Linked DNA regions of Homo sapiens: regions 2, 3 and 4 are each reported to be linked to region 1. The links are microRNA targets in miRTarBase. Many come from high-throughput screens and were not tested one by one. Region 1 holds a microRNA gene; each other region holds the end of a gene's coding sequence.

What was found. The annotated mature microRNA hsa-miR-4719 reads UCACAAAUCUAUAAUAUGCAGG and lies in region 1 at 2,414-2,435, shown strand. An mRNA with a match to its seed (bases 2 to 7 or 8) in the 3' UTR can be bound and repressed. Matches are read on the target gene's strand: a 7mer-m8 pairs with bases 2 to 8, a 7mer-A1 pairs with bases 2 to 7 and ends in A, and an 8mer does both.
Region 2: the mRNA of SMG8 is a reported target of hsa-miR-4719. Seed matches in the 3' UTR shown: 7mer-m8 at 1,406-1,412.
Region 3: miRTarBase lists ZPR1 as a target of hsa-miR-4719. Seed matches in the 3' UTR shown: 7mer-A1 at 3,892-3,898.
Region 4: the mRNA of GNAI1 is a reported target of hsa-miR-4719. Seed matches in the 3' UTR shown: 7mer-m8 at 4,904-4,910, 7mer-m8 at 3,641-3,647 and 7mer-A1 at 3,551-3,557.

The regions. Positions count from the first base shown.
Region 1 is chr16:76,866,575-76,873,728 of GRCh38, forward strand. MIR4719 (microRNA 4719) reads left to right here and starts at 2,362; the gene lies at 2,362-2,445.
Region 2 is chr17:59,213,649-59,220,802 of GRCh38, forward strand. It overlaps SMG8 (SMG8 nonsense mediated mRNA decay factor), which reads left to right. Exons shown (of 4, transcript NM_018149.7): 4 at 1,157-1,582. The coding sequence ends at 1,354. GDPD1 (glycerophosphodiester phosphodiesterase domain containing 1) reads left to right here and starts at 6,863. Exons shown (of 10, transcript NM_182569.4): 1 at 6,863-7,103. The coding sequence starts at 6,962. RefSeq lists an enhancer at 6,889-7,154.
Region 3 is chr11:116,773,112-116,780,143 of GRCh38, reverse strand. It overlaps ZPR1 (ZPR1 zinc finger), which reads left to right. Exons shown (of 14, transcript NM_003904.5): 13 at 307-372; 14 at 1,085-6,345. The coding sequence ends at 1,219. BUD13-DT (BUD13 divergent transcript) reads right to left here and starts at 6,673. Exons shown (of 2, transcript NR_186226.1): 1 at 6,633-6,673; 2 at 5,939-6,234. RefSeq lists enhancers at 5,076-5,245, 6,609-6,698 and a silencer at 6,819-7,018.
Region 4 is chr7:80,216,781-80,223,934 of GRCh38, reverse strand. It overlaps GNAI1 (G protein subunit alpha i1), which reads right to left. Exons shown (of 8, transcript NM_002069.6): 8 at 1-6,632. The coding sequence ends at 6,442. Among named protein-coding and RNA genes, the nearest start is that of GNAI1, 86 kb to the right of the region's middle.

The DNA of each region.
Region 1 (7,154 bases):
CTGAAATAGAATCATTGCTATTATAGTATCCTCTTCATGTAATTCCTGCATATCTTTTTATTTACCAGGACTGTTAGTGATATTAACCACAAGTTATTGCTTTTAGTAAAATATTTCTTGGCAGATCTTGGTGTCTAAATGAGATGACTGGGTTTTTTTTATTGTTGTGTTCTTCCCCTAACTATAATAATTAGCTATAAAATTATCTCAGACATATAGTTGGTTAATAAAAACCTAGGAAATAAAGATTAGACCAAATTAAAATTTTGTTTGGAGCTCGAGCAGAGTCCATAAATCTAAGTTGGCAAAAACAAATGAAAGTATTTTATATTTCACTTGGAATTTTAGGAAAGAGCACTAGGAGAAAATGCATATTTTTTTTTCATCACTTGCAGGGAATAACCAGAGAAGGAAAACTCTGCAATCCCATTGATATCTTGGTACCCTTGCCAATTGACTGGGCTACACACACCTTATATAATGAGTCTTAGAGACAATCAGAAAAGTATTCCCACATAAATCAAGAAAATGGATAGCATCAAAGCATAATGTTGTTGTCATTACTGGAAGTCCAGGGCCAAAGTTACATGTAAATTGGCAAACAAGACAAAATCAATGCAAGTGACTTGCAGGTTTGAGTCTGAAAACCTGGCTGAGAGAGAAAGCTGAATATCCCACGTGGATGAGGGTGGCCTCAGATGGAAATGAGTGGTTTTAATTTAAGCAGCTTGCTGTTGACAGAAGGGACTATCTGCCATGCTCATCACTTATTAGCAGTGCTGATGGCTTCACACTTGAAGAAAGTAGAGAGTTAAATTTATTCAGGTCATCTGTAGGCAACAAATATGGAGACAAAGTGGCAAGGGCTGTTTTTCCCAAATGTTAATGTGCATAAAAATATTAAAACAAGCAGGAATTTTACACTATCCCACATACAAGGCTCTGTTTTGAGTAATATACTCAAGTCAAAATACATAATATTATTTTAAAATTTAAAAAAATCACTTGACGTGTTGGCAAAACAATGAAACTTAAAGGACATGGGCTCTGGTGCCAGATGATCTAAAGTTTGAGTTTGCCCTGGCCCTGAGTTAGCTGTATAAACAGGATATGCTACTTAACTTTGATAGCTTTAGTTTTCATCGTGTGGAAAATGGAGAGGATGCCCATCTCACTGTGTTTTTATGAAGGTTAAATGTGGTTATAGATTTAAAATATGTTGCATGCCTTGCACGATACTGGCTTCCCATCAAGAGTTTTGAGTATATTACAGGTATTTTCCCCTCTTCTTCCCTGCTATCATTCTCAGTTGTCTTTTGGTGGAAGGTAGCAGATTGGATTAAAAGATTGCTTTTTTTTCTTTTCTAGAGTTCAACTAGGCCCTTTAATGTTGGAGGAACCAGGGATATTCTGTGGACATAATTCTGGACAGCAGAACCTAGTTTTCTCCATGCAGAGGAGAATCATGCTGTCCTCAGAGGGTTTATTCTTAAGCAGTTCTCACTGACATGAGAGACAGTGACCCAGTGTGTTGGCATGGAGGGATGGGCAGGAGTGCACCTTGCAGTAGGCAAGTTCTCCTCTAGTACATGGAGCTGCCTCCACGTCACACACTCTGGCAGCAGAAGTTTTGGTGCTGTGAAATCTGTGTTCTCTAGGGATGACTGAAGTTGTCATCCCAAAGAGATTTGAAGGGAATATACTCTCTCTAGATACAAATAACACATATCCTATGTGACAGTCTGTCTTCTTGTTGCTTGATTTTATCCTGATGTTCAGTTGACATTACTGCTTTATATAGAAATGGTTAAGTGACTTTTTTTCTTGTTTACTTTTTTATTTTTTATCACCTGAGCAGACATACATACAAACACACTTACATGTTTATATTATATTATATATTTACAACCCAAGGTTAAAAATGATAGAGCTGCGGTGCTTATAAACAATTTAGTAAACCTGAAATTGTTACTAATACAATTTAAGCAGTTTAGTTAACTTTTTAAAAATTACCAGCACTTGTAAACAAATGTTTCTTAAAAATGTGTAAGAACTAATACTCCTGCATACAAATTTTAGTTGATTTCTCTCCTTAGTTTTAATGGAATAATAATGTTTTATTGTCATTATCTGATGGACATGATTACTGCAGATATTTTATCATGTTGGCATTATGATTTAGTAGAATTTTACCGTTTAATTCTTAAATATACACAGAAACACTGCTCAGAGTCCTCTGGGCAATAATATCTGGTACAGATGCATGAGGGAAAAAGAGCAAAGCTATTACTGTTAGGAGTGTCTGGTCACTTAAATCTTTCACACATCAGTGGAAGAATAGATTTCTTAGTGCTGAAAAGCACAATGATGACTTGTATGTTATAGATTTGTGATTACATTAAAACTTAAAATTTCACAAATCTATAATATGCAGGTCATCACTGTGAAAACTATACGTTTGCAAAAGCCTTAAATTATATAAATCTTTATGCATTTAGTAAAACGTTATTTCCTTTTATGTTGAACTTTGTCATGACCTGTTCTAGAATATTACATGGTATTGACTTTTGAAATGGCAGCAAAGGAACAAGTTTCTTAAATATCTATTTGATTGATTTACATTCATGCAGATGCATTAAGTCTTTCACTGGTTGATGTTCTTCTTTCCAAGTGGATTACAATCAGATTGAAGACCAACTTTCCAGATTCTGCCAAATCCCACTTCTCACTCACATTTCCAAGATTGTCTCAGGAACATTCTTCAACAAACATGACAACATCAAGTCTTTCAAGTAGTGATTTTTCTTTTTATGAATGTAGGCATTACTCTGTGAAAATGAATTACATTAATGATAAAATGCAAGAAACTAACAGCAAAACATCTGATATAAGACAAGATAAAATGTGACACATTTATTGAATATTAAATAGTTACTTAGGTTTAAATATTTAAAACTATGTAGATATATGGCAATCTCAAATACATCCAGAATATGAAGGGGAAATTGAGTTTAATGCATATACCTATATTTTCTTAATATTTCTGTAAATGTAACACTAGCTATTTTGTGTAGAGTTGTAGCCAAGTCAAGAAACCAGTCTTAGTCTATAATGGTTTGAGACCTTGACGAGTAAATTAATACCTTTTGGTTTTATTGATGACAATACTGATGTCTGGGATAGGAACTTTGAAAGTCATTTCTTCTAAGTAGCAAAGCTGCTTGTTGAATTGCATTTTCCATTATCTTTGCTGAGGGGTTCCATAGTCACCTCTGCATCAACATCTCCATTCAACTTGTCATTTTCCCTTCAGTCCTTAGGCTGATTCTAATTTCTATTGATTAATAAGTGGCATTACATCTTGCCTGTTCAGCCAGTCTCAGCCTCATGTCCTCCTCACATTCCATATCCATTCTTTTTCTCCACTTTCTACATTTGACTGATTGCCAAGACCTATACATTTTAATTCTATAATAACTGCCCAATCTATTTCTTCTCCACTACTGCTGCAACTACTTGAGTTTGAGTCTCCATCGCTTCTTATTTGGATTACTCTAATGAATATATAACAGATCTCCCCACCTCCAGTCCTGTTTTCCTCCAACTTTTCTTCATAGGGTTGTTACCATATTCTTGGAAAATAAAAATCAAGTCGAGTTACCCATCTTCCACTGCTGCCCACTTCTTGTTAAAGGCCTTGACTGGCTTCTCTTAGATTAAAAAAAAATCAAGATAAGAATTGAACTGAACACTGAGAACACATGGACACAGGGAGGGGAACAACACATATTGGAGCCTGTTGGAGGCACCAGGGGAGGAAGAGCATCAGGATAAATAGCTAATGCATGCGGAGTGTAATACCTAGGTGATGGGTTGATAGGTGCAGCAAACCACCGTGGCACAGGTTTACCTATGAAACAAACCTGCATGTCCTGCACATGTATCCCACAACATAAAATTAAATTAAAATTCGTATTAGAATTGAACTATTAAATTTTGACTGAAAGAGAAAAGGGTAGATGCATCTCATTTTCTTCACCTACAAAATGCTATGATCTAATTTGATTAAGGACTCATCAGTCTCCCCAAATTCTACCATCATAGATGAAATTCCTGTGCCTGCTTTTCCTGGCACCAGTGTATCCTGTGCCTCTACCACCATATACTGTCTATCTCTTAGACACCCAGCTTATAATAGAGAAGACAGAAACCAAAAGAATTGTTGATTCTTAGGATAACTTGGGGCATGCCTAAGTATGCCCTAAGAGCATACTTTCAACACTGAGTCGAGAAGAATTACTGAGTCTTAGGATAATTTTATGAAACAAATAATGCCCAGGGATATCATGCTCTTGCTTAAAGTCCTTGACTGGCTTCTCTTAGATTAAACAAAAAATCAAGATAAAATAAGAATTGAACTGAACAAGGAGAACACATTGACACAGGGAGGGGAGCAACACACATTGGAGCCTGTTGGGGGTGCAAGGGGAGGAAAAACATCAGGATAAATAGCTAATGCATGCGGGGTGTAATACCTAGGTGATCTGGGATAGGCTAGTTGATAATATCTTCTGAGATAGGATGGCCCTATCTTAAGACAGAGTGCAAAATAATTATTGAGTCTTAGGGTAATTTTGTGAAGCTAATAATGCCCAGGGACACCATAGGATGTCCTGTCTCAAGGATGAGTCCAGAGCATCCACGAAGGTTTTATATATGACCTCTGAGCAAGTTAGAACATTGCCAGTGTCTTTTCCATTCAGCCATATCACATCATAACAGCTCAAATGTGGCAATACATGATTGGCGTTATAAAAGAGGTGATAAGAAGGCTTTTGATGCTTGTCTTTTGAAAGTATTTATATTCTTGACATTTCAGATTTTCTTGACATTTCAGACTGTACATACAACACTATCAAGTCAAGCGAGGTTCTCTATCCATTCCAACTTGTGTGTCCATGTGATTCAAATCAACTCAAATCTCTGCTTGCACAGCACATAGCAGATAAGAATCTACAATTTAAGGGGTTACCTTGCATTTAAGGAAAGGAAAAAGACAGAAAAACCTGTTCAGCTAGACAGAAGGCAATATTGACATCAGACTGGAGCCATTAGCACTTTGATAATGAAAATTCTGACATAATCATGTTCAATATGTTGTCAGCATATCTTCTCATTTTTAAAAGATAGTCATCAAAGTGAATAAATTTCTTAAGAATTCATAGGGAGTAAACATAAACTATGCAGATGCTCCATGTAGGTCAGAGTTTCTCAACCTTGGCACTGTTGACCTTTGGGGTAGGATAGCTCTTTATTGTAAGGGGACTGTCCCATGCATTGTAGAATGTTGAGCAAAATCCCTGGCCTCTAGCACCTTCCCCCAGTCCAACAGCTCAAATTGTCTCCAGCTATTGCCCAATGTTCCCTTGGAGTGGGGTGGCAAAATTGCTCCTCATTGAGAACTAATGCAAATGAAAGACATGGTCATTTTTAGATTCATGACACATTATTGGGTTATTTTTCAGTGGTGAAGAAGAAATGCATGTTGATTCTTTTCCTATAGCATTAGTGTTCTTTATATGTCTATGGAAAAAAGAGACAAAGAAATAATTTATAAAGAGTGGTATTCTGAACTTCGTGAATAAATGCTTTTTATTGTATCTTTTAGGAGGAATATTTCAATAGCAAGGTTTTTCCCCCCTCTATGTTCTGCCTTTCATGGTAATCAAAGGAAAGTATAATATAAAGATATTAACTGAATATCAAGGGCTAACGATATAAAAGTATAAATAGAAATAGAAAATGAATTTTCCCCGAGGCAAAGAGAGATGAGAGACAGAGGACAAAGCAGGACAGAAAAAACAGATCTCTTCTGCTCTATTTTATTAATTCATTTAATTAAGCAATTATACTTCTTGCTATGGACCAGGACATTTTTACTTTATTTTTTGTTGTTATATCATGTAATCTTCATAATTCAATTAACTAGGTGCTATTAATATTTCTATTTTGCAGTCGTGGAAACTGAGGCATACCGAGGTTAAATGACTTGGCACAAAAGCACACAGCTAGTAATTGACAGGGCCAGGTCATGCCTGATGCTACTTTCAGCTCCTGTATTTAAACCCCCTACTCCAGTCCATTTGTGCTTCCTGTCTGCTTAAGTAGGACTCTCTGGGATGCAGGCTATAAAACAGCTTTGCTGCACGAATTTGAAATGGGTTCTTGGTGTCTGTTCTTATAGCACTGGGAAGGAAGTAAGACCAGGAAAGGGAGAAAGTGAGCTGTGATGCATTTGCAATAAAAACCTCAGCTAATCCTATTAGGAGATCTACAGTGGGGAATGGGAGGGTTCTGAGTTTTCCCACCTTGAGTTTGGGGATGAATCTATCAAATCATAGACTAGTTGCTGAATGCATGCTGTTTCCAGAAGGGGATGCTACGTTAAACATGGCAGTACTTTTCAGCCAAGGGCTGTGCTCAGTTGAGAGCCATCAACTGGGAGGTCAGGTTCAATGAAACTGTGCTCTCCAACTTTGCCCTGGTCAGTGAATGAATAGAAAGGCATAACATTTGTACAGTGTACTGGGGAAATAGAAACAGCTGGTGGTTGCCAGGAAAAAAATGACCATGACTTCTAACCACTGTAGGTCCTACCTGGTCTTACAAAGACTGTAGTGAATCAAAGCAGTGCCGTGCTATCACCATTATCCACATACGGCCATGTCAGGGCAGATTTGTCGGGGGGCACTGCAGTAAGGAACTCTCTGTGCCTAGGTCCCTGGATAAGGCACCTCCTTCTTCTGATTGAAAGTTTCCATCCACAGCTTAGAAGCTGGATCCCGGCTGCAAAGTTCCCAGAAATCTCTTTTCCTTTTATAGGTTCCATTCCTCATTTGTATTTGTCAGTCCAGGCGGCTGGGGCAGTGGCCTGAAGGACCTTGGCAAAAATATCAATCACCGACCTAGATTTCCACTGCAAGAATGTGAGGGAAATCAGTCAGAATTGGCAATATCTCACAATTTCACTGATTTTTCCCCAGAGTTAGTTTGAACCAAGTGCTGCTGGACGGTGCTGCCCCTCTTTAGTGTGGACTTGGTGACCCAAGATGTGTCTATCATGTGTCCCTGTGATCTTCAACACATGGCTCCTA
Region 2 (7,154 bases), not on the chromosome of region 1:
TGTTTGTTTTGATTGATTTTAAAAAGTACAAGTTAGCCTCAAAACTAATTATTTCAGGCTGAGGGCAGTGGCTCATGCTTGTAATCCCAGAACTTTGGGAGGCCAAGGTGGGAGGATTGCTTGAGCCCAGGAGTTTAAGACCAGCCTGAGCAACATAGTGAGACTTGTATCTCTACAAAAAATTAAATTAAAAAACGAATTATTTAATTAAACAGGTCTTAAATTTAAATACCTTCCATACCTAATATTCTGTTTTTTAAAAAATACATTGTGGGTATTTTAATCCGTTCATGCTATCAATTCACATCATTTCATTCAAAGGCAGAACTTGAAGTTAAAATTCTGGAGAAAAGGCCGGGTACAGTGAGTCACGCCTGTATTTCCAGCACTTTGGGAGGCCAAGGCAGGCGGATCACCTGAAGTCAGGAGTTCGAGACAAGCCTGGGCAACATGGCGAAACCCCGTCTCTACTAAAAATACAAAAAATTAGCCAGGCGTGGTGGAAGGCGCCTGTAATCCCAGCTACTTGGGAGGCTGAGGCAGGAGAATCACTTGAATCAACCTGTAAGCGGAGGTTGCAGTGAGCCGAGATCGCGCCATTGCACTCCAGCCTGGGTGACTAAGAAAGACTCCATTCCCCCTGCAAAAAAAAAAGTTCTGGGGAAAAGCAGAATAATATTTGAGACTAAATAATATACTATTGGATACAATTAGAGTTAGGAGTGTACCCATATCTGCTTAATCTTATATATTCTTTTATTTATTTATTTGTTTGTTTTTTTGAGACAGTCTCGCTCTGTTGCACAGGCTGGAGGGCAGTGGTGCAATCTCAGCTCACTGCACCTCCGCCTCCTGGGTTCAAGCTGTTCTCCTGCCCCAGCCTCCCCAGTAACAGATTACAGGCACACGCCACCACACCTGACTAATTTTTTGTATTTTTAGTAGACATGGGGTTTCTCCATGTTGGCCAGGCTGGTCTCGAACTCCTGACCTCGTGATTCACCTGCCTCAGCCTCCCAAAGTGCTGGAATTACAGGCGTGAGCCACCAGGTCTGGCCTTGTATGTTCTTTGAACCTATCGTCTGTTTAGGCATTTATCTTTCAGTTGTTTCATATTGAGAAATGTGAAAATAATTATACTACCTGTGTTTTTCAGGTTCAGCCAGGCCCACCACCATGTCCGGTATTCTACCCAGAAAAACAAGAAATCACCCTTCCACCTGATGGCCTTTGGGTTTTGAGATTTCCTTATGCATATGTGACTGAGAGAGGACCTTGTTTCCCCCCTAAGGAAAATGTGCAGTTAATGAGCTACAAGGTGCTCCGTGGGGTTCTTAAGGCAGTAACACAATAAGTGTTTTCCAGCCAGTTCAATCCTATACTTGAGCTGGTTTTTGTTTTTGGTATTTGTGGCTGTGTTTTTGGTATGTGTTTACTGTGTTTTCCCAAATCCAAAATGTGTTTTGGTTACAGGAGTTCAGTATTTGGAAACTAATTTGTTCTACTTTTTCATTATATTGTTGATATTTATTGTAAACGTGACTACAACTTTCTAATAAAGATTGGTTGTTCTAGAAAAGAATATAAAATACATGGATGATACCTGTTTTTTCTCGTTTCTGTTTTACTCTCCATAATTAAACATGTTTCTATTATAACTGAATGTTGCATAACCATGTTGAGCCAAAATTTTGTTTTTGTTAAAATAATGTTTTAGCTGGTTTTTTTTTTTTTTTTTTTTTTTTTTTTTTTTTTTTTGAGACAGAGTTTCACTCTTGTTGCCCAGGCTGCAGTGGAATGGTGCAATCACGGCTCACCGTGGACTTCGCCTCCCAGGTTCAAGCCATTCTCCTGCCTCAGCCTCCCAAATAGCTGGGATTATAGGCATGCGCCTCCACGCCTGGCTAATTTTGTACTTTTAGTAGAGACGGTTTCTCCACCTTGGCCAGGCTGGTCTCGAACTCCTGACCTCAGGAGGTGATCCGCCCACCTTGTCCTCCCAAAGTGCTGGGATTACAGGCATGAACTACCAAGCCCAGCCTAGCTGGGATTTTTTTTAAGATACTAGTCTTGAAATTATCTTCTAAACAAGTTGATACATTAGGTTATCTGGTAATAATATGAAGATACTTGATTTAATTCCAAAAAAAGCACAATTGGTTGACTCACAATTCTGGTACTTTAGTTAAACGGTTTTGTTCTTATCTTGGCCTGATGAGATACCATAATTTAAACGAATATTATCTAAACTAAACTTTTTAATCCAGTATATTAATGCGAACTATTCTTTTTTTTTTTTTTTTGAGACGGAGTCTCACTCTGTCACCCAGGCTGGAGTGCAGTGGCGGGATCTTGGCTCATTGCAGCCTCCGCCTCCTGGGTTCAAGTGATTCTCCTGCCTCAGCCTCCTGAGTAGCCGGGATTATGGGCACGTGCCATGACGCCTAGCTAATTTTTGTATTTTTAGTAGAGGTGGGATTTTGCCAAGTTGCCCAGGCTGGTCTTGAACTCCTGACCTCAGGTGATCCACCTGCCTTGGCCTCCCAAAGTCTTGGGATTACAGGCGTGAGCCACCTTGCCTGGTCAATGCAGACTATTCTTTAAAAATTCCTGTACTGTGAAACAATTTGCTAAGTGATCCAAATCTTATCAATCAGGCTGGGCACAATGGCTCATGCCTTTAATTGCAGCACTTTAGGAGGTTTAGGTGGCAGGAGGATCCCTTAAGACCAGCCTGGAAGACATAGTGAGACCTTGTCTCTACAAAGAAAAAAAAAAAAGATAAAGATGTGGTGGTGCATGCCTGTAGTCCCAGCTACTCAGGAGGCTGAGGTGGGAGGATGGCTTGACCCCAGTGGGTCTAGGCTGCAGTGAGCTGTGATCATACCACCCCAACAGAGCAAGACCCTGTCTAAAAAAAAAAAGATCTTGGGCCAGGTGCAGTGGCCCATGCCTGTAATCCCAGCACTTTGGGAGGCCGAGGCAGGTGGATCATGAGGTCAAGGGATCGAGACCATCCTGGCCAACATGGTGAAACCGCATCTCTACTAAAAATACAAAACCTAGCTGGGTGTAGTGGCACACCCCTGTAGTCCCAGCTACTCGGGAGGCTGAGGCAGGAGAATCACTTGAATCCGGGAGGCGGAAGTTGCAGTGAGCCAAGATTGCGCCACTGCATTCCAGCCTGGTGACAGAGTGAGGCTTCGTCTCAAAAAAAAAAAAAAAAAAAAAAAAAAATTCTTACCAATCTATGGTAACTTTCACCAGCATCCACATGACAATATGCCACTATATCACCATCTAATTTTTATCACCATCTAGTTGTTATCACCAATCAGATGGCAATATAGTGGTATATTGTGATATATCACCAATTAGGTAAGTACAAATTAAGTTAACATACCTAAACTCTTGTGTAATTGATTACATTTCCATAGACACACTAATTTTGAAACGTTGGACAAATAGAATTGTAGATTTTAGTCTCAATATATAGGAAATATGTATTTAACACATCTTGCTACATTTAAAGCCATTGTTTTTTAATTTAAAAATATACATAGGCTGGGTGCGGTGGCTTACACCTGTAATCCTAGCACTTTGGGAGGCCGAGGCAGGAGATCGAGACCAGCCTGACCAACATAGTGAAACCCCGTCTCTACTAAAAATACAAAAATTAGCCAGGCCTGGTGGCGTGCTCCTGTGATCCCAGCTACTTGGGAGGCTGAGGCAGGAGAATCACTTGGACCCAGGAGGCAGAGGTTGCAGTGAGCCAAGATTGCGCCACTGCACTCCAGCCTGGGTAACAGAGTGAGACTCCATCTCAAAAAAAAAAAAAAAAAGTAAATGCTCCTCTTTCTTCTCTCGCCTTCATTAAAAGAAAATTATATAAAATAATAAAAGAATTCAGAACTCTGACTTTGAATTCATACTTTTCCTGTTGTTCTGTCTTCTTAGAAAATATAAGAATGAACCTGTAATCCCAGGACTTTGGGAGGCCAAGGTGGGCAGATCACTTGAGGTCAGGAGTTCAAGACCAGTCTGGCCAACATGGTGAAACCCCATCTCTACTAAAAGTACAAAATTAGCCGGGCCCAGTGACTCATGCCTGTAATCCCAGCACTTTGGGAGGCCGAGGCAGGTGGATCATCTGAGGTCGGGAGTTCGAGACCAGCCTGACCAACATGGCGAAACCCTGTCTCTACTATTAGCCGGGCCAGGTGATGCATGCCTGTAATCCCAGCTACTCGGGAGGCTGAGGCAGAAGAATCGCTGGAACCCGGGAGGCAGAGGTTGTGGTGAGCTGAAATCGTGCCATTGCACTCCAGCCTAGACAACAAGAGCGAAACTCCTTTTCAAAAAGAAAAGAAAAGAAAAGAAAAATATACACACACACAATATTAGCCAGGCGCGGTGGTGCGCATCTGTAGCCCCAGCTACTCAGGAGGCTGAGGCAGGAGAATCACTTGAACCCCCGGGGAGGCAGAGGATGCAGTGAGCCGAGATGGCACTGCTGAACTCCAGCCTGGACCACAGAGTGAGACTCTGTCTAAAAAAAAAAAAAAAGCGGTTAGAATTTGAGGTTTATATATAATCTAAAATTTACGGGTGGGAAGGGGTAGGGGGTACTTCCAGAAGAACAAATGACTTCTTAGAAGCTGGGGAGAAAGCACTTTTTGGAAAAAGAAATGATTTTTTGGAAACATAAATGTGTCCTTAGGAGAATACCCATGAGATGTCATACTTTTGTGACAATGTCTCTCATCTCTGACAGGATTAGAATTGTTCCCAGGGAGGAGATTTATGACAGTTAAGTTCTTCTGGGAGCCTTTGATTTTAGGTTGATAAGGGATTCCAGGAACTTAAATGCCTTCAGCTCAATATATATATATTTTTTAAGAGACAGAGTCTTGCTCTGTCGCCCAGGCTGGGGTGCCGTGGCATGATCTTGGCTCACTGCAAGCTCCGCCTCCCAGGTTCAAGCCATTCTCCTGCCTCAGCCTCCCTAGTAGCTGGGACTACAGGCATGCACCACTATGCCTGGCTTATTTTTGTATTTTTAGTAGATACGGGGTTTCACCATGATGGCCAGGCTAGTCTCGAACTCCCGACCTCAGGTGATCTGCCTGTCTCAGCCTCCCAAAGTGCTGGGATTACAGGCGTGAGCCACCATGCCCAGCCTCAAAATAATTTTTATGCCACAGTGGTTTATTCTAGACGCTTCCATAGTCATCAGGTGATATTTTGAAAAATAGAACTATGTGCGTCAGTTGATCTACAGGAAATAGTTTAACAGCCCTAAACAGAACACATGATTTTTTAACCTGTAAGTTTCCTCAGAATGTTGCTCTGTTGCCCAGGCTGGAGTGCAGTGGCACCATCAAGGCTCACTTCAACCTCGACTAAAGGAATTTTTTTTTTTTTTTTTTTTTTTTTTTTTTTTTTTTTTTTTGAGACGGAGTCTCGCTCTGTCACCCAGGCTGGAGTGCAGTGGCGCCTTCTCGGCTCATTGCAACCTCTGCCTCCCGGGTCCAAGAGATTCTCCTGCCTCGGCCTCCTGAGTAGCTGGGATCACAGGCACACGCCACCACCCCTGGCAAATTTTTGTATTTTTAGTAGAGATGGAATTTCGCCATGTTGGCCAGGCTCCTGACTTCAAATGATCTGCCCGCCTCAGCCTCCCAAAGTGCTGGGATTACAGGCTTGAGCCACCGTGCCCAGCCACCCCCTATTTTCTTCTAATTTTCTTTTTATAGTTGAGATAGGGTCTTGCTCTGTCGCCCAGGCTGGGGTGCAGTGGTGCAGTCATAGCTCACTGCAGCCTCGATTTTCCAGGCTCAAGCAATACTCCCACTTCAGCCTCCCAAGTAGCGTGACTACAGGTGCACGCCACCACGCCGGGCTTATTTTGTTTTATTTTTTGTAGAGATGGGGTTTCGCCATGTTGCCCAGGCTGGTCTCGAACTCCCGGGCTCAAGCGATCCACCCTTCCTTCCCGGCCTCCCTAAGTGCTGGGATTACAGGCGTGGGCCACCGCGCCCGGCTGAATCAGGATTTTAAATATTCACTCTGCTTTTCTAGTCCTGTGGGAGATATGGTCTTCTCCGTAAAATTTCTCCCTCAGTCCTGGGTGATTTATTTCTTTTGCATTGAAGTGTGTGGCTTTTCGTGTGTTAGCAGTTTGTAATTTGTCGGGTAAAAGGAAAACTAGTAGGGCCTTCTGGAACTTAGTTATCTGTCTTTCTAGGACTTTTAGGTAATACCTTATAACCTTAACAAAGTTTCCTTATTTTATACGGACTTGTAAGTCAACAAATACTTCTACAGTGCCTATTGTGTACAAAGAATGAGGATTGCACTTTCACAATGAAATGAGGGAGGACAGGGGCCGATCTCTCAGATATTTGACTGATAAACCAGTACCTTTTCTAGTATATGCGACCATAGGGGAAATTCTCTCTAGGCTAGATAAACGGAGGAGTTTATTTAGTGTTTTAGCAAGCTTTATCGCCTCCATAGGTACAAATTATTTGCATTTTCTAGAGCAAGGGATAAGACGCGCCCTGGAATCTTTCCTTTTTGATGTGGATTTTCCAATTAGGAAAGGCTGCCCGTGAATAGTCTTTTCTGCTTGAGTGATGGCCAACACACTGGCAGGTTTGCAAGCTTTCTCTTCATGAGGGTCCGTCCACAGAGCTAGGTGACAAACGCTCAGTCCAGGATCTCTGCAGGTTCCTACACGGGAGCCGGAGAGCGCCTGCGCGTCGGAGCCTCTTTGTTGCTGGGGCGCTGGGGTCCAGCTGCGCGTGCGCAGTAGGCCGGCACCGACAAGTGCGCTGCACCAGTGGCACCGGCTGGGGGCGAGCCGACCTCGAGCAGCCGCCGCCGCCGCCGTCGTTGCTACTGCCGCAGCGGAGTTCAGAGGGCCCGGAGGTGGGAGACTTCCCACACGGTGACTGAGATGTCGTCCACTGCGGCTTTTTACCTTCTCTCTACGCTAGGAGGATACTTGGTGACCTCATTCTTGTTGCTTAAATACCCGACCTTGCTGCACCAGAGAAAGAAGCAGCGATTCCTCAGTAAACACATCTCTCACCGCGGAGGTGAGAGGGGTCCCCAGAACCCGATGACGGAGGTGGGGGAGGCTGAGGGTC
Region 3 (7,032 bases), not on the chromosome of region 1:
AAATTGGGTTGGTTCTTGTCTGGCAGGCATAGCCTCTTTTTTTAAAAATTTTTCTTTACTTTCATTTATTTCATTTCTTTTTTTATTTATATATATATTTATTATACTTAAGTTCTAGGGTACATGTGCACAACGTGCAGGTTTGTTACATATGTATACATGTGCCATGTTGGTGTGCTGTACCCATTAACTAGTCATTTACATTAGGTATATCTCCTAATGCTATCCCTCCCCCCTCCCCCGACATAGCCTCTTTTTACCAGGGGTTATGTAAAATTTACTTGCTGTGTTCTCTCTCTCCTTTAGATCATCGAAGGTAACATGAAGGCCCACTTTATTATGGATGATCCAGCAGGAAACAGTTACTTGCAGGTATAGTAGACCTTCCCTGATGTTTCATAGAGATACATTTTCTGATCTTCCTTGAATATGTATCATTTCCCTAGAAACTGAAAGACTTGATTCTAAATGGACTGCTTTTTACCAAGGAGGCAGAAGTTAGAAGATACATAAGGGAGAAAAGAGGGGGGTGTGGGAGGGGATTTTTTTTTTAAGTGTATGTAAAGAAGGAAAAAAAAAGGATACTCTGAGGCCCCTTTTTTTTCTGTAGTCAAGCTCTTGTCCCAGTTCTGGAGTTTTCATTTTGCAAATCTGATTATGGATTGAGGAGAAATGGTACCTTGTCCGGAGGCCAAGATAGGAAACTGATAGGCTTTAAGTTGACTGAGGAGAGAGTCTGGTGATTGATGTACCTTTACCATTTATTGGATACTTACCATGGGTCAGGCAAAACTCTTCTAAGTTCTTTCCAAGATTAAGACCATTTGTCATACTTTTCATAAGAAGGTGCAGATATAACAAAATAGGTGGATTGTTCCCTGATTCTGGGGCTGGGGTCTTCTACCCCTGGCCCATGTGGGCTCTGTTGCTACCCACTAGTTCAGTCTAGCCATGGGAAATTGGAGGCCAATAAAAAGAAAAAAACCCAAAACTCATTCTGTTCTTGGGAAGGTGGGAATTGGAAGCTGCCTGCAGAGAGGGGGAGTGGCACAGCGGCACTGATTGTCTCTCCTTGACCTTGCAGAATGTGTATGCGCCTGAAGATGATCCTGAGATGAAGGTGGAGCGTTACAAGCGCACCTTTGACCAAAATGAGGAGCTAGGGCTCAATGACATGAAGACAGAGGGCTATGAGGCAGGCCTGGCTCCGCAACGGTAGCAGTGGGTGGCTCAAGGGCCAGCCTCCAGCGCTGCTCTTTCTGTAGGTTATTTATTAGTATTGGATGAAGGCGAAGGCTGGGAGTGTCTTTCCCACCAGCCCTTGCCCATGGTGGGGAGGACATCTGGTCTGAGTCAGAGATCTGTGCACACTTTCTAAACAGCTTGTGATGCAAGTGTGAGCCTATTGTGTTACTTGACCTTATTTTGGAAGTTTTGAATTGGCCTAGGAGGAAACCCAGAAATGAACCAGGGGTATGTCATCACTTTTTTCATATCAAGTCCTCACCCTCCTTCCACATAATGCTCTATCCTCTAAGGTTGGAACTCTGAAGTTGGAGAAGGTGGAATAAAGTTACACCTGGAGTTTGTTGTTGGTTTTGAGTATATAAAATACTGACTTTGAACAGGAAAGGAGTCTCCTGAGGGGAGACCGAGTCCAGCACAAGTGAAGGAGTTACCATTGAAATGATGACTTTCAAACAGCACTGGCCTCTGTATTGACCCTATCCTTGTTTGATATCATGCTGTTAGAATTCAGCCTCCTAAAGAAAATTTTCCCGTGTATCTACTGTAATTTGGGGATTGCAGCTGGCATTTAATTCATTCCTTCAGCAGATGCTTGCTTATCTACTTTATGCCAAGCACACCACAGAACAGAGGACAAAATAAATCTCTTTCATGGAACTTGAAGTCTAGTGGGGAAAAATGACAATAAACAGATCAGGAAAACAGTACATCAGATGGTGATTAGTGTCATGGAGGAATGTAAAGCAGGGAATGGGGCTGGGTTGTGCAAGGAAATGGGGAGTAGGGAAGATCTTCTGAACAAGAAGGTGATAATTTGACATTTGGGCAAAGCTGAGGAGGAGGTCAGGGAGTGAGCTGTGTGGGTATCTGGGGGAAGAGATTTCCTGGCAGAGGGAACTGCAAATGCTAGAGCTGTGAGGTTAGAGCCAGTGGGGGTACCTGATCAGTTAGCCCTACTCTCAGTTAGAAATGTTGAAACACATTCATCCAGAGAGAAAGGAGGCTCTCTGCAGTTCTTCTGAAAGTTAAGGACCAGTGAACACTCTGCTGCTTGGGCCCTGGACTTCCCAGCCAGTGTTCTTTGCACTGTAGTCTCCTGCCTCTCATAAACAAAAGGTGACTCCTGTGGTGCAGACTGCAGGGTATTTGTTCAATAAAGACCAGTTCATTGATTAAGATGTTATCACAAACCTTATTGCTTTGTGTTGCAAACTTTTTTTTTTTTTTTTTTTGGTAGAGACAGAGTCTCGCGCTGTTGCCCAGGCTGGAGTGCAGTGGTGTGATCTTGGCTTATTGCAACCTTTGCCTCCCGGGTTTAAGCAATTCTGCCTCAGCCTCCCGAGTAGCGGGGACTACAGGCGCACGCCGCCACACCCAGCTAATTTCTTTTGTATTTTAGTAGAGACGGGGTTTCACCGTGTTGCCCAGGCTGGTCTCGAACTCCTGAGCTCAGGCAATCCGCCAGCCTTGGCCTCCCAAAGTGCTAGGATTACAGGCGTGAGCTACCGCGTCCGGCTGTGTTGCAAACTTAACTCTGAAGAATGAGTTAGAGATGATTTAGCAATCAGACATCTACTCTCGTTGCTCTGTTAAACTACTCTCAAAGGTCACAAGTGATTTTCCACTTGGAAAGTGTTATCTATTTCTGTCACATTTGATAGTGGACCATCTCTTCTTAACCCTTCTTTTGGCTCTCGAGATACTGTACCCTTGGTTTTCCCTTCACTTTGAATATTTCTTATTTGGACACTTTGCCTCCTCCCCTCTTACTAAATTTGTTTCTGAGAGTTCTGCTTTCAGACATCTCTCCATATCAGATTCTTTGGCATCTTACTATCATGTGGGACTAACTTCCATACCTGTATCTCTAATTTCTGTAAGTGAGGGCGAGAGTAAGGTGTTTGGAGACTCAGGTTAGCAAATGACTCATTCAAACTATAAAGCTTCAGTACTTTGGGCAAACTTCTCACAGGCAACTATTCTACCCTAAGAGATTATCTCTAGGTATGTTTCCAGCTGACTTGGGAATCTAAGTTTACCAGACAACCCTCTGATCTATCATTTGGTCTCTTAAGTAGACTTCCCCATAGTGTAGGTGTGCTCTGTTAAGATAAACTGCAGTATCAGGTTCATTTTCCATTGTGAAGGAAAAAAAATGGCACTCTGGCTTATTACTGAATCTCTTGTGAGTTTGGTTGGTGTGAGGCAATCTCCCAGAATCCACCCAGTTCCTAGGAAATGATGACCTGAGTTTCTGAACTTGAAGACTGAGGACCAGGTGCCAGACTGGGATAACCCAGCTAAGGTACTTCCTGCCCTTTGATGACAAGGCATTCTTCAGTTTCATACCCTTCTCTTGAATTATCTTTCAGCTCCTTTCTCATTTCATAAAGTGTGTCAGGATGGGAGCTTACATATAGTTAACTGAGTCTTGCTCCACAGCACCCAGCATATGACACATGGTTAATAAAATCTGTTAAAATCCTCCATCATAGATTAAACCCTATTAGGACACTAGGGATAACATCTATAGGTAAAAAGATAGGGAAAGGGTCTCGCTTTAAGGCCAGGGTAGGTGAGTCAAAGTGCCAGGAACATGTGGATTCAGTTTCACAGCCATGAGTAACATTTAAGTGGAAAAGGTTTGTGATTGTGTTAAAAAAGGAAAGTGGTTCATGCATGAGGGCACGCCTCCTACTTTCATGGGTCAAGTATGTGAAATGCAGCCATGTTCGGTCATTAGACGTGTGGACGAACATACAGGTAGGTACTGAATGTACATCTGTGTCATGATGAGTGGAGGAGGGGAGGTGAGTGTTGGGAGCAAGTATGAAGGGCAGTTGACTTGGCCAACTGAAAACTTTAATGATGGCAACACTTTCATTCTAACATCAGTATATTTCCTTCTTTGTACACCTGTGGTATGTGCCTGATGCACACTGCAGAAAATGGTGTCTCTGCTTACATTTAGGGCAGTGGTGGCTAAGACTACTTGGCTTTATTCCTATTAAAAAATGTTTTTTACACACTTCTTTTTAAGGCAAATGGCAGTGTTTCCAACTGTGGAGAGAAAAAGCTGCTTATTTTGTGCGTTCACCTCAGTTTAGTATTGGCACTTCCAATGCTTGTTTTCCTAGTCTGTAAAATGGGGATAATTAGGATAAACAAAATTATCCCCATTTTACAGGTGACAAAACAGCCTCAGAGAGGTTACTTCCAGAAGGAAGCAGAGCTTTTTTTTTTTTTTTTTTTTTTTTTTTTTTTTTTTGAGACGGAGTCTCACTCTGTTGCCCAGACTGGAGTGCAGTGGCGTGATCTTGGCTCACCACAACCTCTGCCTCCCAGGTTCAAGCGATTCTCTTGCCTCAGCCTTCTGAGTAGCTGGGACTACAGGTGCACGCCACCATGCCTGGCTAATTTTTTTTTTTTTTTTTTTTTTGGAGACAGTCTTGCTCTGTCACCCAGGATGGAGTGCAGTGGTGCGATCTTGGCTCACTGCAGCCTTGCCTCCTGGGTTCAAGCAATTCTCCTGCCTCAGCCTCCTGAGTAGCTGGGATTACAGACGCCCACCACTGCACCCAGCTAATTTTTGTATTTTTAGTAGAGATGGGGTTTCACCATGTTGGTCAGGCTGGTCTCAAACCCCTGACCTCGTGATCCACCTGCCTTGGCCTCCCAAAGTGCAGGGATTACAGGCGTGAGCCACCGTGCCTGGCCAGAAGTAGAGCTTCTAAGAGGCAGGTGTCAAACCCATGCCAGTCAGACTCTGAAACCTGAGGTCTGAATATTTTAAGCTCAGCTCCACAATTACTGTATTTGTTCTATTAGATACAACTGCAGAGAGAGGCCAAAGCTCAGAGCAGGCCATTGGCACGGCATCTGATCCTGCTTAACTGCCCTGCAGCACAGGGTGGAGACACTTGGGCCTTGTCAGGCTAAGGGACTGGGGTAGGATGGGTAGCAGTGGAATTGAAGACAAAGAAAACAAATGGGCAGAAGATGGGTGGGTGGAAGTTCAGAGGGCTATCCTGGCAGTGTTCACTGGAGCAGAAGTGTGAGGCTTTCTGAATGCCTGCTGACACCAGGGTGGGGCAGGGCTGTGTAGTGTGAGATGCACCAAATTGGACGAGAAGCCAAGGCAGGCTTGTGTATGGGGTACCCTGGGGCCCTCCGCCTAGTGAAGCCCTATCTTCTCAGCCCAGCGTCCTCGTCTCACAAGCCCTCAGAGCCCCAGCCTGCTTTCCTTTCTGGGCCTGTGCTGCAACCCCCTCAACATGGCCCACTGGGTAAAAATTCATGCTTCAAGACTGATCCCCAAGCCTGTTTTGTATTATATGAGTAAAGAATTTTTTAAACACTTATCCCCAGATAATGTGTATTTATTTATAAAGTATAGCCCTGTCTGCTTGACTAATATATTAAAAAAGTGACCTTTTTGACTCTTGGTCCAAGAAACTATTGTTTGCACTTTTGTGTAGTTGTGTATAGCATCCTGCAAATTCTGTCAGAAGTCTGTGATTTCAGTAACACTAAAACTTCTCTCTCAAATGGTACAAGTTTTCAGTTTTAAGACAAGTTCTGGGAATCTAATGTACAACATGTTGACTATAGCTAATAATTCTGTATTGTTTACTTGAAGTTTGCTAAGACAAATTTGCTTAAGTGCCCCCCCACCGAACTACTACATAAATTAGTGAAGGATGTTTTACTTAATTTGATTTTGGTAATCATTACACAATGTATAATTATATCCAGTCATCACATTGTACACCTTGAATATATATAATTTTTTGTCAAATAATAAAGCTGGGAAGAAAACGATAAAACTGACAATCTAACATATATGATGAGGTAAAAAGATCTGGTATTTCAAGAAATTTGGATGACCTCTTGCACCCCACTTCGCTAGCCTCTACTCCCTAGAGTCATGTTCTGACTATGTGAAGTTGAGCAACTTCCTTAATCTTGCCACGCTTCAGTTCTTATCTGTAAAATATGATAATGAAACGATTTGAGAATTGTGAGGGTTAAATGAGATAATTCAGGTAAAGCTCTAAACCCCCTGCAAAGAATAAAGTCTTTTCTTTCCCCCCAAAACTTGAGTGTTAGAATTCATTCTCTCTGGTTTCTCTCTTTTACTATGCTAAAAAATGATCCAGGTCCGTCCTTCTCATTGGCAAGATTGTTTTACAGTTTCCTTCAAGAGATAACTGGGGGCTACTTGTAATAGAACACTAGAAGAGTTACACAGGTCTTAGAAACTACGTTTTTCATAGTAATTATGTTGGTTTGCACTTCCTGGCTTCCTTTCTTGGACGGTAGGTACCTGGAAGCCTAGTGGAGCAGATTCCCCCCACTTAAAGATACTTATAAAAATAACGAACATAGTTCCGATGACCATGTGCCCAACACCGCTCTGCGCACTTCACACAGTAATATCATCTCAGCCTGTGACCGTTCCGAGTTAGGTGCCGGGATTCTCCCTGTTTTGTGATAACTTGCCCGAGGTCGTACAGCTAGCCAGCTATGGAACCAGTATTCAAACTCGGCTACGCTGCAGCCCGTGGCCCTCCACTTTCTTGCTCGTGCTCTGGAGTTTAGGCGGCCGATGGGGGCGGGGTCCTTTGGGTCAGGTTGTGGCCTCATAGAACAGCGCTTGCTGCGGTTGGATGGATGGGTGGGTGGGTGGGTGAGTGAATGAAGAGAAGAAACCTGGTGGCGTCGTCCCAGGGCTGTGGAGCGCCCCGAAGGTGCGCACGTCCCTGGCTAGCCTGCGAGCGCGTC
Region 4 (7,154 bases), not on the chromosome of region 1:
CAGCCAGAAAAATGCTTTATTAGATTTAGACAAGATTCCTTTCGAAGAAGAAGATTCATAGTTAAAATTTGTAACTTACTATGTTAAGAAATTCAAGAATGGTTAAATGGTTTAAACGTATGCTCAAGTCTGCAAAAAAGTTATATTTATTACAGGTAAATTGCCTTGTGAAGTAGATTGCTAGGACAATTGGTCACTTAAAACGGAAAGGTAATTACTTATATTTGTAAACAGGAAAACATGTTATACTAAAATTGAATGCTGCAAAGTGAGTCCTATACAAACCATATTAATGAATTTGCTGCTGGGATAGTCCGCATTCCACAAGCTACAAAATTGATACCTCAGTACTATTTAATAGAAATTAAAGATAGAGCTGTTTAGAAGTAGCTTTGACTTAACTTTACTCTTGATTTTCAAAAGTGAAGGAAGGATCAAAGCTAAAACTCTGTGAAGTTTCCACAGAACATAATTAAAATTCAAGAGTGCACAACAGAAAATCCAAGGTAATATCCAATCTTCACAGTGGTTTATTTTGAAGACTAGCTTTACACTGAAATTGTACAAACATTTGTCAACTTAGTAAAAAATAACTGCAAAATTGTATGTCTAATTTAGCAAAAACAAAAAATCCTGGTAAAATAGAGAATACACAGATAGTGTGTTTGCACAGGAATAAAATTAATTATAAGAATCCCTCCATAGACACTGCAGTTGGAAAAGGAATTTCTGTGGCCCTTAGGCTCTCAAGAGTCCTACTCTATGTACAGATGGTCCCCAACGTATGATGGTCCAACTTAACAATTTTTCAACTTTACATTGGTGCGAAACTGGTATGCATTCAGTTAGAAACCATATTTCAAGTACCCATGCAATCAATCTGTTTTTCATTTTCAGTACAGTATCCAAGAAAATTACATGAGATATCCTTTATTGTAAAATAGGCTTTATGCTATCTTGTCCAACTGTATGCTAATCTAAGTGTTCTGAGCACCTTTAAGTTAGGCCAGGCTAAGCTACATTTGGTAGGTTAGGTGTATTAAATGCATTTTCAAAATAAGGTATTATCAACTTACAGTGGGCTTTTCAGGACTTAACCCACGGTAAGTCAAGGAGCACCTGTACTTTCTTCTAGGTGACAACTTCTTTTACTAAAAGTGGCACTCTTATCTGCTAAAATAGTCTCTGTCTAGTATTCTATGCATGTTTCCTCAAATTATCTCATTTTTAATCAATTAAAAATATTTTGGCCAGGTGCGGTGGCTCACACCTGTAATCCCAGCACTTTGGGCGGCCGAGGTGGGCGGATTACCTGAGGTCAGGAGTTCGAGACCAGCCCGACCGACATGGAGAAACCCCGTCTCTACTAAAAATACAAGATTAGTTGGGTGTAGTGTCGCATGCCTGTAATCCCAGCTACTCGGGAACCTGAGGCAGGAGAATTGCTTGTACCCGGGAGGCGGATGTTGCGGTGAGCCGAGATCGCACCATTGCGCTCCAGCCTGGGAAACAAGAACGAAACTCTGTCTCAGGAAAAAAAAAAAAAAAAAAATTAAATTTGAAGAACTAGCTCCTTCAATGACAGTGTTTCCATCCACTTTACGGATGGAGACCTAGGAAGACGGGCAGTAAAATCAAAGAAGCTGGAAATATTTGACCTTATACACAATACTCAGGAAGATTTATTACATGGTGGGACTATTCCAGTTGAGGCCTAATCAGCTCTGGCTTGGACAATTGCAGCTGATTCCTGTCTGTGCATATTTGGGTGTCTCTGGCCTCTGGACTTGATGAAATGTGAAATTTCGTAACTTTTAAAGTAACTACAAAATCCAACTAAATAAGAGAAATCACAACAGACACCAAAGCAAACAGTAATTGGTTTAAAAAAATGCCTGGGAAACAGGCCAGTGGGATTGTGAAACGTAAACTTCTTTATATAAATGCATTTCAACTGTTAAGAAAGGGTTTTGAAAAGAACTAAAAAAGAAAACTGGCTGGGCGCAGTGGCTCACGTCTGTAATCCCAGCACTTTGGGAGGCCGAGGCGGTCAGATCACAAGGTCAGGTGATCAAGACCATCCTGGCCAACATGGTGAAACCCCCCTTTACTAAAAATACAAAAATTAGCTGGGTGTAGTGGCGCATGCCTGTAATCCCAGCTACTCGGGAGGCTGAGGCAGGACAATTGCTTGAACCATGGAGTTGGAGGTTGCAGAGAGTGGAGATTGCACGACTGCACTCCAGCCTGGTGAAGGAGCAAGACTCCATACCAAAAAAAAAAAAAAAAAAAAAAAAAGAAAATTTCCAACCTAACATTAAAATATAAACTCTCTCATACTATTGGTTACATTAAAACGACAGAAGTGTCCTCAAGTTGATTAGAGATTGCATTTTCTCATTTTCCAGTATCAATATGTGAGACACTTAGTTTTCATTATGAAAACGAATTATGAGAGTTTTGTTTTTGAGGCATTTCATTCAAAGCACGTATCAACAACCATTTGTTAAGCACTGATTATGATTTTAAAGGCACCTTAAAACTATTATTTATAATCAAATAACAGCAAATTGTATTGACGGCTTATACATTCCACACTCCCCTCTAGGTACTTAACATGTACTGTGAACTTATTTAATGCTGACAACAACCATTAAAATTAATGGATTATTTAATCCTTATTTATTTTCAGATGATATAAATGGAGGCAGAGCAAAACTAAATTATTTGCCCAGATTTTCCCAGTTAATAAGAAATTGAGCCAGGATTTGAAGCCAGACGGGGTGCCAGAGCCTAGGATTTTCACCATCACTTTCTACTTCCAACATAACACACTAAGCAATGATGATGCTACCATCTGTAATAATGATTACAGTATCAACTAAATTCATTTACATAAGGTGGTTCTGCAAACGGCAAATGATGTAAAAAATGGTAACTGTGCTCTTAAGTAGCTTCACATCTAAGGAGTAAAAAATAGCTCTGATGAAAGACATTAATAAGTATCTCCTTTTTTAAATCTGAAAAACTATTATGGCTCAGAGGAACTCAAGGGCAGAGTGGGGATAGGCGAAACACTACTTACACATTTTCTGGAAATAAGGTAGCATCTTTGGGGTCCTCTGACAGACATGGAGTCAGAAGCTCTAGGTTTAAAACCTTCATCTGGTCTTGCTCAAGTTAATTAACCTCTTTAAGCCTTTTTTGATCTCTAGTTACTGTCAGTATTCAATGAGAACATATGGATTTTAATCAGTACTTTTTCAGTAACAAACTGAATTCGATTAAACTAGATTAGGCATAAAAAAGTAGACTTTTAGAAGGTTACTGAAATGAAGAGAATTTTAGAAACCACAAGCGCCTTAGGGACTTTAAGAATGGCAACTGGGACAATGATTGGCTCACTCGTCCAATGCTGGAGGACTCGGATTGGTCAGGTCTAAGCCTAGAGACGGAGAAGTAAGAAATGCGATTGGCAGCTCTATCAGAATCATGTAGTTCCCAGAAGGGCACCCTGAAGAACAGATGCCAGAGGAGTCTAAAAGAGGTATCACAAACAAATTTAAAAGTGCCAAATTTAAAAGTGCCAATACATTTTACACACCATTTTAAAAGTGCTAATAAAAATAACATTGACAGACACAAATGAACACTTCCCACATTGTAGGCACTGCTCTAAGCATATCACATGTAGTAAGTAATACAGTACTTGGAGGAAAGCCCAGGTTATGCACAGGACACTATTTGGATACAGTGTAGAAAGGAACAGGCCTCAGGTGATGAAGAGCATTAAATGGCAGGCTAACTTATACTTAATTTTATTGACAAATCAGAGCCAATGCAGATCAAGGAATAGAAGGTGATAGGGCCACAGTTCTACATTAGGATAACTAACCTGGGTTTTTCGAGAAGAGAGAAATGGGAGGTGGGGAATTTAACTAATAATGCCATTTTAAGAGGAAGTTTAGCAAAGACTTGAATAGGTAGTAGTAGGAATAGAAAGGAAAACAAACAAAAAACAGATTTAAGGCTTTGTAGAACTGTCAGTAAATTGAAATGGAGATTAGGAATCAGAAGAGTTCCACCTAATGCATGCAGGGCTTAAAACTTAGATGACAGGTTGATAGGTGCAGCAAACCACCATGGCACATGTATACATATGTAACCAACCTGCATGTTCAGCACACGTATCCCAGAACTTAAACTAAAAAGTTCCCCATTGAAGGAATAAATGATGATGGTACTTAGTAAGGAAAAATGGCAAAGTCAGGGTGAGAACTGGTGTAAGGAGAGAATGATGATGAATTTAGTTTTGAATATAATGAGTTAAAAAGCAGGCAATGCATTCTCAGAAGGGGATATCAAGAAGGCAATTCCAAATGTGGCATCACATCTCATAGCTTGGAACAGGGAAAATCTGAGCTTCTGGAGTAGCTGAAATTGTAAAAAGAGCATAGAAAAAGAAGAAATGAAGAAACAACAGACTGATACTTAAATTCTAATCCAAAATGTACTTAGCCAATAGGTTTGTAAAATTTTAAAAATTTAAATTTATTAGGATTTATTAACACAATTACACAGAATAAAGTTCAGGATTTCATTAATGATGGTCACCAATATGTGCTTCTTTGTGGCTTTTTAACCCATAATTCTCATGATTCAAATTTATTCATATTATAGTTGAATTTCATACACAGCTTCACAATGTGGATATTACAGGTCCACCAGTAAAATTAATGAAAACATATCTTTCATGAAAGGCACATAAAGAATCTAAACTAACACATTTAAGGAACTTTGATAACTTTGAATTTCTTTACATTACAAAGAAGAAAATCCTCCAAATGAAACAGATATGAATATAGTTTATGGTTACACACACACACACACACACACACACACACACAAATATACTTCAACCCAGTGACAACACGTAACTTGGAAACTACTTACCAGCAACGTGTACTGAAAGACTAACCTTTTCCAAGATGAGTAAAAAAAGGAGGGTGGGGTGGGGAGTGCTGTTTACTTTGCTGAAACAAGGTCAGAGATGACACATCATGAATAATCAAAAGAAAATTATTCTATCAAAGCTCAGTATCTAGCTGATACATAACACTTATTTGAGCACACATATAATCACTGACTTATTAAACACTATTACTCATTTTCTAAGTGTAATCGTCCATTTCATTCTCAGAAATAATAGTATAATTGAAAAAGAAATGATATAATCTCAAGCAAGTGGAGAAATTTGAATTATCTAAGGGAAAAAAGTAATTTTAACATAGTGTGATAATTACATTTGAAATTAGTTATATGTATAAATTTAAATCTTGCATTATATCAGCAATAGAGTATTCAAAGATCCTTCTTGTTATCTTCCCAACAAGGAGCTATCATGTATGCTAGGTACAAGAGACTCCTCAAGGGAAATAAAAGCCTCACCAATCAATGTCTCAAAATTCATTATGTCCACAGGTTTTTTTTTTACCCACAAAAATGCTCTTAGGATCCCTCCAAACTTAGTTATAAACAAAAATGTAGTTATTTAAAGTGAATAAAAATTAAGATGACATCACCTTTGAGGCAATGCATTCATATCAGCCAAATATTAAAATTCAGAGTGAAAACAAGTGAATAAAAACTAAGTGTGTACAATAAGTCTAAGACAGTATATCCTCAGAAATCTGAAATTTTAGTTTTTCAAACCAAATCTAACGTGGAATCTAATGTAAAATTAAATTATTTTATTTTCTTAAAGTAGGAAAAATCAAAATGCATACAATGTTTAAATAGTTGATCCAAAGGCAGGTGTATTCATCTTAAGAACATTTCAATAAAACACATAAAATTTAAAGAACAAATCATGTTATTAAAATAGTCTGTGCAATGTTTGTACAAATAACATTTTTATTAATACAAGTATACATATAATCTAGATAAGGGCTGTAATGTTTCCTAATATTAATTACTGTACTTAAAAATTTACAGGACATGAACATAAATAAAGCTGTTTAAAACTGGCAAACGTAGTAATAGTCTGTCATTCAGTACAAGGTATATTTATGTTATTTCCAAAGCCATCACCCTAAAATCCTAAGTTGCCACTCTTAAAACCTAAAAATAATGTCGAAAACTAAAGTCATAAATACATGTATACATACATTTGCATATTTACACTTATGCAGAAATCATCAATATACTAGAGCCCAGCTTTAACACTGTCCTTCAGTTTCACACTGCAGGACCATCTGTCACATTTAAGAAAGGTCCTTCTGTTACTTTCAGTTAAAAAAACAAAACAGAACAACTTTGGTCAAGTCCCAGATGCATTTGCCTTATATTACATTCTGTGTTGCTGCAAGACTCTAGTCTACAGAGATCCATATATAAGTACTCATTTGGTTTGAAAATGCATTTTACCATGAACTGCAAAACTTAAAAGAGACCACAATCTTTTAGATTATTTTTTATGATGACATCTGTTACAGCATCAAAAACAAACTGCACATTCTTAGTATCTGTGGCACATGTGAAGTGGGTGTATATTTCCTTTGTGTCCTTTCTTTTATTGAGGTCTTCAAACTGACATTGAATATATGCAGCTGCCTCTTCATATGTGTTTGATCCTGAGATGGAAAAAGGAAAGAAACATAAATGCAAAAAGTTAAAATAACTGCTTAAAATACTGAATTCAGTTTCATACATATGAAACTGAAGTCAGTTTCATACAGTTTCATTCATGGACTCCTTAACTGTGCTTTCCCTTCTAGAATGGGAGACACTATTTCTTCTAAATGAAAAACACTCCATGTTAATTACCTTTAATGACTAAGTTATCCCTTAAACAAAAAATTTCCTTTACATGGCATTCCGTGTTCATCATGATCTTTGTTCCTGCCTCAATCCTCAAATGCCAGATCTTTTATCCTCTTATCCTCTGTCCTCTACACCCCAGCTCAGATGCTTGACGACGGCATGCTATTTCAGTTCTGGCCCAATGGTGGATCAAAAAATGTTGGCTGAATGCTGATCAGTATTTTTTCCTCCCTTTTCTATATATACATTAATTTGCATTCTTCACTCATTTTTCTTTATTCAAAAATTGTACCAAGGTCTACAATGATGTTTAGGAGTATGAGGTTACAAAA